4 linked regions of the Homo sapiens genome follow. The protein of the gene in region 2 interacts with the protein of the main gene of each other region in a pairwise test. Each region holds a gene or a part of one and is shown on either strand. Other genes may lie near its edges.

Region 1 (2,529 bases), on a different chromosome or scaffold from region 2:
CCCCAGATTCAGCAGCTGTAAGTGACAACCGGGTTTCTTCGGGTCTTGTTGTGGTTAAATTTCCTTTTATTGTGGGTAAATTCACTTAACATAAAACTAACCACTTTAAAGTGTGCAACTTAATGGCATTAAGGACTTTCACACTGTCATGCAACTGTCACCACTATCACACTGTCATGCAACTGTCACCACCATCACACTGTCATGCAACTGTCACCACCATTGAGCACCAACCCATCTTCATCACCTCCGAAAGAAGCCCCTTCCCCCTCAGCTGTCACTCCCCAACCCCTCTCCTATCCCCTGACAACCACGCATCCCCTTCCTGTCTCTGTGGATGGGCCTGTCCTGGACATTTCGTAGAAATGGGATCACACACTGCGTGAACTTTGGTGTCTGGCGTCTCTCACTGAGCGTGACGTCCTCAAGGTGCATGTGTGCTGGGGCCTGGGTCAGGGCCTCGCTCCTTTTCATGGCTGAGTAATATTCCAGTGTGGAGGGACCACGCTGTGCTGATCCACACATCTATCCATGGACATTTGGGCTGTTTCTACCTTTTGTCTGTTGTGAACGGTGCTGCTTGAGCACGGGTGTGCAATCGTCTGTGTGAATCCTGTTTTCGTTTCTCTTGGATATAAACTTCTGAGTGCACTCGCTGGCTCATAGGGTCACTCCCCAGTAAGCGCTGTGCGCACTGGGGAGCTGCTCACCTGTTTTCATGGTGAAATCTTTTTTTCTTTCTCCTTTTTTTTTTTTTGAGACAGAATCTTGCTCTGTCACCCAGGCTGGAGTGCAGTGGCAGAATCTTGGCTCACTGCAACCTCTGCCTCCCGGGATCAAGTGGGTCTTCCCAAGTAGCTGGAATTACAGGCATCCACCACCATGCCCGGCTGATTTTTGCATTTTTAGTAGAGATGGGGTTTCACCATGTTGGCCAGGCTGGTCTTGAACTCCTGACCTCAGGTGATCCACCCGCCTCAGCCTCCCAAAGTGCAGGGATGACAGGTGTGAGCCACCGCGGCTGGCCCACGGTCAAATCTTAAAGCATGGTTTCCCAGCCACAGCACCGTGGCCATTTGAGCTGGACCAGTTTCTGGAGCAGGGCCGTCCTGGGCACTGCAGGGTGCTGAGCACTGTCTCTAGCCTCCATCCACTCCATGCCAGGAGCACCCCCTGCCCCTGTCTTGGCGTAACCCAATCATGGCTGTTGCAAATGTCCGCTGCCATTGCAGGGGTCCTCTGGGGGCAGGATCACCCCCTGGCTGAGAACTACGCTCTTTAGGCCAAAGAAAGAGGGGTGTTCTGGGAAAGCAGGTGAAAGTCACAGGGTGGGTTTGGGCCCTGGAGGCCCACCAGGTGGTGAGAGAGAATCCTCTCCTGCAGGGGAAGGTGAAGGGCTGAGAGGGATTCTCTCCCGGGCCACTGCGAGGGCCTGCAGTGGGGGTGGCGGTCAGGCTGTCCCGGCTGCGAGTCACGCGCTCTCTCCTGCAGCATGTCCGGCATGATTTCGGGTGGCAACAACCCCTTGGGAACTCCCGGCACCAGCCCCTCGCAGAACGACCTGGCCAGCCTCATCCAGGCGTGAGTGGAACTGCTTCCAAGAGGACGGAGGACGTGGGCGGCGGGCAGGGCTCGCAGGCGGAAGGGAAGGAGGAGAGCGAAAGTGCTGCGTCCCCTGCTCCGAAGGGCCCAGCGTCCTCCAGCGAGGGGTCAGGCCTGTCTTTGGGGTGGAGGGCCCGAGGGGTCAGCTGGGGATGGACGGAGGCAGCAGGCAGCCTCCTGGCCCTGGCTGAGCCCCATGTGCCCTTCCCCGCAGGGGCCAGCAGTTTGCCCAGCAGATGCAGCAGCAGAACCCAGAGTTGATAGAGCAGCTCAGGAGCCAGATCCGGAGTCGGACGCCCAGCGCCAGCAACGACGACCAGCAGGAGTGACGCTGCGTGAGTGCATGGGGCCGGGGGCTGGGGGGTGGCCAGCAGGAGTGACACCACGTGAGTGCCTGGCAGTGAGGGCAGCCAGCAGGAGTGACGCCCGGGGGCTGTGGAGCCTGTCTGGACACTGGACAGCGAGTCCTGGGTGCATCCAGCTCAGAAGATCACCCTGAACCGCCCAGGCAGGTGGGGGCATCTCTGGGCATTGGGCCCCTTTCCAGGTGGCCACCAAGTCCTGCTCCCCACTCCTTTCCCATCTGTGGATCGGCGCTGGGTGGAGATTAGGGGAGAGCCACAGCTCCCTGGAAGGGCTGGTGTCTGGGGTCCCCCCTGCCTAAGGCCGCCTGCAGAAGCTCTTTGTTTCTGCAGTGTCGGGGCTGCCACCTCGGGGGTGGGGGCGAGGTCATCGAGTGGTGGAAAGGACAAGCCGGGTACCTGCCTTTGACTGCGCCCGAGCGTTCTGCCTGCATTTTGTGAGGGATTTTTTGTCCTTTTCTCACTGTGAGCAGGTGTTGCACTTACAGTTGTTTAAAAATACACTCAGTGTCCCCCATGGGTTCCAGGGGCCCGTGGCTGGCTTGGTTTCCTTCCCCAGGGGCCC
Region 2 (3,162 bases):
TTACAGGCATGAGCCACTGCACCCAGCCAGCTTCTAGATTTTTAACTTGGGTATCTCTGGGAAGAATGATGCCATTTCCTAAGAAGGGATTGACCAAGGAATAAATAGGTTGGGAAGTATGTAAGATAATTATTAACGTTGAGAAGTCTAAAATAAACAAGCGGATAAATGACAATAAAGTAAATTCCAGAAATGGATGGCTGGACATTGTCGACTAGCTTAGGCTAGGTCAGGACGGATAAAGCCAGGAGTCATGGCCATATGGATGGCTTTTTTTTTTTTTTTTTTGAGACAGAGTCTCGCTCTGTCACCCAGGCTGGAGTGCAGTGGTTCGATCTTGGCTCACTGCAACATCTGCCTCCTGGGTCCAAGCGATTCTCCTGTCTCAGCCTCCCAAGTAGCTGAGATTATAGGCGGGTGCCACCACACCCAGCTCATTTTTGTATTTTTTAGTAGAGACAGGGTTTCACCGTGTTGGCCAGGCTGGTCTTGAACTCCTGATCTCAGGTGATCCGCCAGCCTCAGCCTCCCAAAGTGCTGGGATTACAGGTGTGAGCCCTTGTGCCCGGCCTATCGATGGCATTTAAAGCCACAGGATTGGGTGAGACGCCAGGAGAAAGAAGGGCCCCACGAATGAAGCCCTGAGACTCTTGGGCATCTTGAAGTGGAGCTGAGGGGAAAACCAGCAGAGACTGAAAAGAAGCTGGAGAGAGAGGAAGAAACCCAGGGAGGGTGGCATCCTGGATTCGGAGAAACCACTGTTTCAAGGAGGATGTGGCTGTCTGTGTTGAATGCAGCTGAGAGATCACATGAAATGAGAACAGAGAAATGATGGCTGGGTTTGGTAACGTGAAAGTCCTGCTGACCTTAAAGAGGGTGGTTTCAGTGGCATAGTTAGAACAGGAAGGCAGTGTGCATTGGGTTGAGAAGAAAATGAGAAATAAGGAACTGGAGGCAGGGACAACCTTTTTTTTTTTTTTTTTTTTTTTTTTTTTTTTTTTTTTTGTGACAGAGTTTCACTCTTGTCACCCAGGCTGGATCCAGTGCAATGGCACGATCTCGGCTGACCGTAACCTCCACCTCCCGGGTTCAAGCAATTCTCCTGCCTCAGCCTCCCCAGTAGCTGAGATTACAGGCATGCGCCACCACGCCTGGCTAATTTTGTATTTTTAGTAGAGACAGGGTTTCTCCATGTTGGTCAGGCTGGTCTCAAACTCCCGACCTCAGGTGTTCCACCCGCTTCGGCCTCCCAAAGTGCTGGGATTACAAGCATGAGCCACTGCACCCGGCCTAGGACAACCCTTTTTAGAAGTTTCTCTGTAACAAGGAGCAGAGAAATAGGCCAGTAGGTGGAGGGGTGTGTGGACCAAGGAAAAGTTTAGTTCTGTGAACAATACTATTTTCATCTGATCTAACATGTACTGAGGGCTTTCTTGAGATAGGCACTGTGTCTGGCACTTGTGTTTGGTCTTATCTAATCCTCACAACAGCCCTAAAAGGAAGATACTCTAATTACCTCCATTTTACAGATGGAGGTTACACAACTTGTCTGAGGCCATGAGATACTAAGTGGTGGAGCCAAGATTTGAACCCAGCTAGAATGTGCCTGTGTACTGGACATGGTCTGCATGAAAGGCGAGGTGGCTGGTGCAGGGGTGAGGGGTCCATGCAGGGGCCACATCCAAAAAGGGGAGAGGGAAGTTTCCAGAAAGAAGAGAGGACACATCTCCCACCATTACCAGAGGGTCAAAGGAGAACAAGAGACCAGGTGGGTTTGTAGATTTGCTGGGGGGAGATGAGGGAACCTTTGCTCGATGACTTCTAGGTCCTCTGGACAACTAGGGAGATGGAGACAGGAGATTTGAGGAGAAATGGTACAAAATCTCAACTTGCTGATTATGAAAGCAAGCTTCGTGGGGGAATGTAAGATTGCCAGGCAGGACGGAATGTCCAGGTGAGGTTTGTGGCTGGAGACAAGTGATATACCAGGCAAGCCCTCCGTGCTCCTGGGCACACCATGCCCTTAGGCTACAAGCAGCCTTTGCTTAGGCTGGCTTCGTAGCTAGGAATGCCCTCTCTTCTCTGCCCTCCCTACTCTTCATGCCCAGATCAGCCTTCCTCCCCTCTGTATAGACCACTTATTTTGGCAATTATCCAGACATTCATTCATTCATTGACTCAACAGGCATTGAAGACCTACTGTTTGCTAGGGGCCAGGCTAGGTGCCCACAGCAACTAATATCCAGACTCTTTTTTTTTTTTTTTTTTTTTTTTGAGATGGAGTCTCACTCTGTCGCCCAGGCTGGAGTGTAGTGGCGCGATCTCGGCTTACTGCAAGCTCCGCCTCCTGGGTTCATGCCATTCTCCTGCCTCAGCCTCCCAAGTAGCTGGGACTACAGGCGCCCGCCACCACGCCTGGCTAATTTTTTTTTATTTTTTAGTAGAGACGGGGTTTCACCGTGTTAGCCAGGATGGTCTCGATCTCCTGACCTCGTGATCCACCCAACTCGGCCTCCCAAAGTGCTGGGATTACAGGCGTGAGCCACCGCGCCCAGCCGGTCAGACCCATTTTTTTTTTTGAGATGGAGTTTTGCTCTTGTTGCCCCAGCTGGAGTGCAGTGGCGCCATCTCGGCTCACTGCAGCCTTCTCGGGTTCAAGTGATTCTCCTGCCTCAGTCTCCCGAGTAGCTGGGACTACAGGCGCCTGCCACCACGCCTGGCTAATTTTTTTTTTATGTTTTAGTAGAGACGGGGTTTCACCGTGTTAGCCAGGAGCGTCTCGATCTCCTGACCTCGTGATCCACCCACCTTGGCCTCCCAAGGTGCTGGGATTACAGGCGTGAGCCACTGTGCCCAGCCTCAGACCAACTCTTAAGGAGTCACTGTCTAGGAGAGGAAACAAGCATATAAATTTGTAATTACAGGAACATACAAAAAAAATTAGCCAGGTTTGGTGGCACATGCCTGTAATCCCAGCTACTCAGGAGGCTGAAGCATGAGAATCACTTGAACCCGGGAGGCGGAGGCTGCAGTGAGCCGAGATTGTGCCACTGCACTCCAGCCTGGGTGACAAGAGTGAGACTCCATCTCAAAAAAAAATTTGTAATTACAGTGGAATATGACAAGAACAATAATAAAAGTGGCCAAGATACCTGGCAACAC
Region 3 (4,051 bases), on a different chromosome or scaffold from region 2:
CTAATCCCAACACTTTGGGAGGCTGAGGCAGGCAGATCACTTGAGGTCAGGAGTTCGAGATCACCCTGGCCAACATGGTGAAACCCCGTCTCTACTAAAAATATAAAAAGTAGCCGGGCGTGGTGGCAGGCACCTATAGTCCCAGCTACTTGGGAGGCTGAGGCAGGAGCATGGCTTGAACCTGGGAGGCAGAGGTTGCAGTGACCTGAGGTCACACTACTGTACTCCAGCCTGGGCAACAAAGCAAGACTCCGTCTCAAAAAAACAAAATAAAGGTTGATGGCCGGGCATGGTAGCTCACACCTGTAATCCCAGCACTTTGGGAGGCCGAGGCAGGTGGATCATTTGAAGTCAGGAGTTTGAGACCAGCCTAGCCAACATGGTGAAACCCCATCTCTACTAAAAATTAAAAAAAAAAAAAAAAAAAAAAATAGCCATGTGTGGTGGCACACACTTATAATCCCAGCTACTCAGGAGGCTGAGGCAGGAGAATCTTTTGAGCCTGGGAGGCAGAGGTTGTGGTGAGCCAAGATCGCACCACTTCACTCCAGTCTGGGTGACAGAGTAAGACCCTGTCTCAAAAAAAAACCGTTAAGCCTGTCTTCCTACACACAACTTCCATTGACTCTTCAGAAAGAAGGGTGATGGGCCCAGCGTGGTGGCTCATGCCTGTAATCCTAGCACTTTGGGAGGCTGAGGCGGGTGGATCACCTGAGGTTGGGAGTTCAAGACTAGCCTGACGAACATGGAGAAACCCCATCTCTACTAGAAATACAAAATTAGCCCGGCATGGTGGCACATGCCTGTAATCTCAGCTATTCGGGAGGCTGAGGCAGGAGAATCACTTGAACCTGGGAGGCGGAGGTTGCAGTGAGCCGAGATTGTGCCATTGCACTCCAGCCTGGGCAACAAAACCACACCTAGCAAAGGGTTCTAGGAAGAGCAGAAGTTTGGAGTAGATGATAAAAGAGAGAGAAGAAGTCAAAGCCAACAGCCCTTTACGGATCTCCAAGCACCCTTAGTGCTCTTGGCCTGGGTCTGCATAGAGAAAGGGAAGGCAGGAAGAAGGGAAACAAATTTTGATGGGGCTGGAAGAGAGGGCCTATACTTCCAAGCTCCCAAAGGCTTTTTTAGAAAAGAAGAAGGTGCAGTTGAGTAGGGTGGGGTAGGGTGGGGCAGGGGTGGGTAAAGTGGGAGTGGCCTGAATCTTCCAACGGCTGGATTTCAAAAATGTCACTGTATTCCAGCACTTCAATAAGACAAAGATCAAAACGTCAGCAGCTAAGAGGATGGGCCCGAGCAAAGACTGCCTGGCCCCGCTGGGAAAATGAAAGTGGCTCACCCCAAGGAGGGAAGGACAGTGCCCCCAACCCTCGAAGACACTAGGCAGAGGGCCAAGGGAGGAGTGCGGCCAGACCTGGGCATAACACAACTTCCTGAGCTGGGAGCCTCTGCCCTCTGCCTCCCTCCCTCCCTTGCATTCCTGGGCCAAGCAGGCCAAGGGCTGTGGGAGCTGCGGGGGAGCCGATCTCTCATCTCCCGGAGCTCTTTTGGTGGGCCTGTCAGAGCCCAAGGAAGGTCCCAGACACGCAGAGTGGCAGAGTGAGGGAGAACTTCCCAACCCTTAGAACCCAGGACAAGGTCATGCTGAGGGGGGGCCACCGCCAAGCCCTTGGGAGGGAAAAGGGGGATTGCCCTGCCTTCCTGACCTCGCTCCAACACGCTGGACAGATGCCAACTTGAGAGTTATGTCTTAGTGGGCATCATGTGTTCAGAGCCAGCTTGGGCAAAGCTAGCACAGTGCCAAGCCCGCTAACAAAGTTCTAACAGGACCCTTTCTGCCACTCCGATGTGTCCTGGGTGCCCAGAGTTCTTCGAGCTGGCAGGGCTAGTTCTGTTTTGCTCAAGCCCCTCCCCCCGGCTCCAAATAGTTGGCAAATCCCAATCTGACCGAATTCAGGCCGGCCCCAGCCCCAACTTGTCCCTGATACCCCCACCATTCCTTATATCCTCCCCGACCCTCTCCCAGAGACCACCACTTCCCTCTCTGTCCTGTCTTGACAATTCCCCTTGACACTGCCAGTCACCCGCTGGGGGCAGTTCCGGGGAGGGAGGAGACTATGGCAAAGTTATCGGCCTCCAGGCCCTCTCACTCCCTTCCTGCGGCCGGCCAGGGGCGCCGGCCCGCCGCCCTCTCCACTCCCCGCCAGGCACGCAGCCACCTGGGCGAACTCACCGCGCTTTCAGCTCCTTAAACTCCTCACGCACTTTGCTCAGCTCCAGCTGCAGGCGGGCGCGCTCCTTGGCTACTGAGTCAAGGGTCTTGCGGGCATCCCCGAGCTCGGCCTCGTAGGCGGCCTTGATGCCGGACACCTCGCGGCTGACCACCTCTTCAGACTCGGTGATGCGAAGGCGCAGCCCTGCGTTCTCCGTTTCCAGCGAGCGCACACGGTCGATGTAGACCGCCAAGCGATCATTGAGCTCCTGCAGGTCCTCCTTCTCCTGCAGCCGGGTGATGCGGGTGGGCGACAGCGGAGTGGAGCTGGCCTGCGCCCCGCTGCGGGTGGCGCGCCGCTGGGACGGGGTCTCCATGGCCGGCAGGTTGGCAGCGCTGCCCGCGGGGCAGGGGTCCCGGAAAGGGCGCGGGGCTCGGGTCGAAGGACAGAGACTGCTCGGAGTCGGAGTGCGCCGGCCGGCTGGCTCTCGGCTTGCTCCTGGCAGGCGTGGGGATCTGGGCCGGGCGCTGTCGGACCTCGGGATCTGGGTTGGCTGGTGTAGGTGCGGCGCTCCCGCGAACACTGAGTCACCGACGCCGGGGCAAAGGCTCTAATAGGTCCTCCTCTGAAGGGAGGAGGGGCCACTACTCTTAAAGGGGCAGTCCCAGATCCATTGGGGGTGGGGGCGGGAGTGGTGAGGAGGGGGAAGGACCGTTGGGGTGTGGCGGAGTCGGGCCCCACCCTCTCCAGCGCACCCCTAACTGCGTGAGGCTCAAGCTTCCCCTCTCTTGGCTCCTGCCTGCTCAGCACTGTCGGCTCCAAGCTTGCCCCCATTGCCTCAGACCTTCTGGGCTAGAGGGCAGAGCCAAGGAGGGAGAGTGGGTGGGCAAAAGGGTCGGGGAGAAAGAGAGGGAAGTGGGCGCAAAGCAAGGGAGAGGGTCAGGTAGGCAGGGCTGGGAGCCAGGAAAGTGGGGGGAGGGCTGAGGCTGGTGCCCATCAGTGTGACTCACCCTTCTTCCACCACTGGCTCCCCCTGTCCTCCCAGTAGTAATAGTGAGTCACCCCAACCCCCCTCCACACGTGGGCAGCCCATTCAGAGCTGCATCTCAGTGTGCCAGGAGTGGGGTGGAGAAGGAATGCCTGGGTTCCCTGGGGGGAGCAAAGTTCTGGAACCTGAGTTCCTTTATGCCCCCAGTTTGGGGCCAGGGATCAAGGAGTTTGGGGGGTCCCTTTTTTTCTTTCTTTTGCCCCAATCTATCTCTCTTCAAAGCCAAGCATTCGTTTTTAGACCCAAGCAACAAGCCACAGTCCCCTAAAGAAGTCCCCTAAAGAAAGCCAAGAATAGGAGCCAGGCACTGCCCCTTCCATCTCCTGTCCCCTTCCTTTGGACCCAAGCACTGCCTGGGTTCCTTCCCCCTTCAGTCCCTTTCTACTGCTTACCGCACCCAGTCAACTTATTTTTTTCCCCCAGAACTGTACTTATTTTAATGGATAATTTAAAACAGATACCAGAGCTGTGCATGCATTCATTACGTTGCCAAGACACTAGGTCCCAGATTTCTGTGGTTCCCAGAGGGGCCTGAAAGGGGAAGCAGGGCTGGGGGCTGGACAGCCAATATTGGGTCTCTATCCTGGTTTCAGCCAGAAAGAAGGTAGTGGGGGGCAAGAAGGTAGTGGGGGACAGGAACAGCAAAGACCCCACAGCCTTGCTGGCTGCAAAGGCCAGCACCATACTCATCTCTACTTTCCTCTCTGGCCAGGTCCATTCTGCAGCTGGCTCTGGGGAGGGGCCAGGCTCTCTCACAAAACGAGATCACTCAGGTCCCCAGGGTTCG
Region 4 (3,500 bases), on a different chromosome or scaffold from region 2:
GAACCCTATTTTTGGTAGTTGAGAATGCCGCACATATGTAAAAGAGAACAGGCTGTTAAAGCAGGAACAGAGTTGGAGGAGCTGGGTGATGTAGATTAATATTTGGGCCTAGAATAGCAAGGTAAATTGGCCATGGGAGTAAAGCCGTTTTCATAGAGCTTTGTCAACTCTCTCCTACTTGGGGAGCTCTAGTTCCTGAAGACCCTTTAGTTAGAGTCTTAAGAAAAGTAGCTAGGTCAAATGAAAAAGATTTTTTTTCCTTAAAGTATTTGCATTGGGTGTTTTTGGAGACCTGTCTTCCTAACAGTCCAAGTTAAAATCTAATTGTACTTGGCTGGGGCTAGAGATTGGAAGTAGCTTTTAAGGTCAGATACCACTTTAAAATTTATTTGTATAATTCACTTCAGTGAAAAAATAAGCTCTCAGCAATTAGTAGCCAACCTAGATATGTTCTTTTGAATACAGGCTCCTTATAAATAAGCACCTCCTGTACAAGGCTTAATTTTAAATAGTTGCCCTGAGATTCCTTTCTTAAATTTGAGTTTTGAGTCTCTTCCATTAGGGAAGCTACTACGTCTTCCCCAGTTTTTATTATAGCAACTGAAATTATGGAAGGAGTTTTATTTTGTGAAACAGAGGTCAAAAATGTTTGCTGGATTCTTCTCTCATATATTTTTTTTCCCCAGTCTTCAGGATGTGCTTATGCAGGATTCCAGGTTATATCTCATCTTTGAGTTTCTTTCCATGGATCTGAAGAAATACTTGGATTCTATCCCTCCTGGTCAGTACATGGATTCTTCACTTGTTAAGGTAAAAGCTTAACTAATTTTATTAATATTTATGCACTGTGGATATAAAGGGACTATATATAGAAGTCCCTGCATTTTGTGGGAATATGCTTGGAAAAAGTGTTAGAATAAGAAAAAGTATTTCATTTTTCTCCCTCATGGTTAGTTTATACAGGTTAGAGATACCCATGTTATTACCAGATAGTGTTTCTAGTAAGTAAAAATTAGTGCCTGAGATAACATAGAACTGGTAGGTATTGTTGGAAGCTAGGGTAGTCTGGTCTTTCTTTGGCTGTCAGATACATGTAAAACAAAGTAATGAAAGCCTAGGGCAGAGTGGTGGTTGTAGGTGTTTTATTCCAGTTTTGAACATGTTTTGGTCAATTTATTGTAGACATTTATTATATTTCAGGTAAATTATAAAATTGTATAGTTTTAAGTACTGAAGTATATAAAAGTGTCTTATTCTTGCACCAGTTCTACCAAACCACTCTGCAGAGGTAGCGCTGTTAGTTTTATTTGTAATCTTACACTTGTATGTATGTTCACTTTGTATGTATATAAAGATTTTTTTTTTTACACAAGGTGGACTTATTTGCATATGTATATATACATATTTTCCCTTTTTTGTGTAAAACATTATCAAGACGTAGATCTACCTATGTCTATTTACATTTTTGATATAATTAAACCACTTCCATATTGATGAACATTTAAATTATTTTCCAACTTGGTTATTGTTGCTCTTATTAACAGTACTGCACTGAATGTCCTTATAGATATTTATCTTCGTATGCAACTTTATAGGATAAATTTTTAGAATGGGAATGATGGATTGAAGATGTTTATTTACATTTTGATAGATATTGCCGGTTGCCCCCTAAAAAACTTGTAGCAATTTACTCTTAAATACTCATGGTGTGTAATACTTATTGTTTTAGTACATCATTGCCAAAACTTGGTTTTATCAATCTGTTAACTATGTGAAAAAGGCATATTAAGATTGTTTTAATTTTATATTTCATGACAATTTAACACTTCATATTTAGCTATTATAAACCGCCTATATTTTCGTTAGGATACGTTCTTTAACAATCTTGCATGACTTTTGGACTTTCTGCTTTTATGTCTTGCTTAAGTCTTCCTCACTCAAAGATCGAATGTATTAGAATAATACATGTCAGTATTTTTCTGGTAGTTTTAGTAAGTCCTGTCTTCCACACATACTTTTTTTGTCTTAAATTCTGTATTAAGATTTATTTTGACTTAAAAACTGGGATACAGATTCTGCTTTATCTTTTTCCAAATGGCTAGCCAGTTGTTCTAACTGGTTTTATGTACAGGCAACAATGGTTTTACTTACAATTTTTCAGTTTTACAATGAAGCAGAAATGATGCACATTCACTAGAAACCATACTTCATTTACCCATACAACCATTCTGTTTTTTCACTTTCAGTACAGTATTCAATAAATAATGAGGTATTCAACACTTCCAACTATATGCTAATGTAAGTGTTTTGAGCACAATTAAGGTGGGCTACGCTTAGCTACGTTTGGTAGGTTAGGTGTGTTCAATGCATTTCGACAAGGTATTTTCAGCTTAGAATGAGTTTAACCAGATGGATCATCCGTTTTGTTTTGTTTTTTGAACACCACTTGTCCCTCTAAGATGGAGCATCTGTATTACTTTCCAATTTCAAACTGTAAGTCATTTTTCTGTGTACTTTGTTTTTGTAATATCCATGCTACTTCAGATGTCAATGACATTGTCTTTGGCAACAAATGTCTTGTAAAGCACTTTTCTCTGAACTAAGCAGCATTTTATGATAATTTTATCCATTGAAATATATAATCATAATATCTTTGCCATCACTTTTAGAATCTAATTTTTTCAAGAAGGAAATGAATATGTAAAAATGAAAGATAGAAAAGGCCAACTGTATTGAAGATACAAAATAGAGTTGGTAGCGGTATATAGAAGAAAAATCAAGAGGCTTCTGTGTAGAAAACCAATTTGTAATTTAAGGATCGGGGACCAAAAATGTTTAAAGACTAAATGTGTTCACATTACTATAGATATGTCTATAAGGTGAAGATTCTTTTCTTAGGTATACAAATGTGATGTTGTATATAAATGGGCTTCCCACCCACAAATGCTTATTAGCCTAAAATGGCCTGAAAGCTCTAGTAATTAAATTATTTCTCTGCGTCCTAATTTTTTGTCTTTGAAACAGATTATTTAGAAAATCATGTACTTCGCTTAAGTTTCTAACTTTTACTTGCTTTTTCCAGAGTTATTTATACCAAATCCTACAGGGGATTGTGTTTTGTCACTCTAGAAGAGTTCTTCACAGAGACTTAAAACCTCAAAATCTCTTGATTGATGACAAAGGAACAATTAAACTGGCTGATTTTGGCCTTGCCAGAGCTTTTGGAATACCTATCAGAGTATATACACATGAGGCAAGTGGAATAGTGGTTTTTGATGGCTTTTGAATGTGTGTGATTGCTAGATTATTTTCTGTATTTGTGAAAGTCAAGAAATAACTCAATAAAAGATATCTACTCTGTGGCAGTATCAATTTATTGCCTCTCAGCTCCAAATTCATTGCATGCTATGTGAAAATGGAACTGAAGCCTTTAAGTATTTTTTCTTTACCAGCTGCTATGTTGTTAAGGTAGAGGGTACTAGAGGGACATGGCAGGAGGA

Evidence for each region. Proteins that work in one complex are often made in the same cells at the same time.
Region 1: the proteins of TNFSF12 (region 2) and SGTA interact in binary tests that used the Homo sapiens proteins (3 or more experiments, as listed by UniProt).
Region 3: the proteins of TNFSF12 (region 2) and LMNA interact in a two-hybrid assay, tested with the Homo sapiens proteins (one large-scale study listed by BioGRID).
Region 4: the proteins of TNFSF12 (region 2) and CDK1 interact in binary tests that used the Homo sapiens proteins (3 or more experiments, as listed by UniProt).

The regions. Positions count from the first base shown.
Region 1 is NC_000019.10:2,756,745-2,759,273, reverse strand, and holds part of SGTA (small glutamine-rich tetratricopeptide repeat-containing protein alpha), read left to right. Parts: coding exon 1-17; intron 18-1,491; coding exon 1,492-1,581; intron 1,582-1,816; coding exon 1,817-1,931; 3' UTR 1,932-1,937; intron 1,938-2,529. UniProt on the Homo sapiens protein: Co-chaperone that binds misfolded and hydrophobic patches-containing client proteins in the cytosol. Mediates their targeting to the endoplasmic reticulum but also regulates their sorting to the proteasome when targeting fails.
Region 2 is NC_000017.11:7,552,058-7,555,219, forward strand, and holds part of TNFSF12 (tumor necrosis factor ligand superfamily member 12 proprotein), read left to right. Parts: intron 1-1,529; exon of another isoform or gene 1,530-1,768; intron 1,769-3,162. UniProt on the Homo sapiens protein: Binds to FN14 and possibly also to TNRFSF12/APO3. Weak inducer of apoptosis in some cell types. Mediates NF-kappa-B activation. Promotes angiogenesis and the proliferation of endothelial cells. Also involved in induction of inflammatory cytokines.
Region 3 is NC_000001.11:156,113,460-156,117,510, reverse strand, and holds the start of LMNA (lamin), read right to left. Parts: upstream 2,801-4,051; 5' UTR 2,593-2,800; coding exon 2,237-2,592; intron 1-2,236.
Region 4 is NC_000010.11:60,784,978-60,788,477, forward strand, and holds part of CDK1 (cyclin-dependent kinase 1), read left to right. Parts: intron 1-686; coding exon 687-810; coding exon of another isoform or gene 811-822; exon of another isoform or gene 823-2,092; intron 2,093-3,082; coding exon 3,083-3,253; intron 3,254-3,500. UniProt on the Homo sapiens protein: Plays a key role in the control of the eukaryotic cell cycle by modulating the centrosome cycle as well as mitotic onset; promotes G2-M transition via association with multiple interphase cyclins.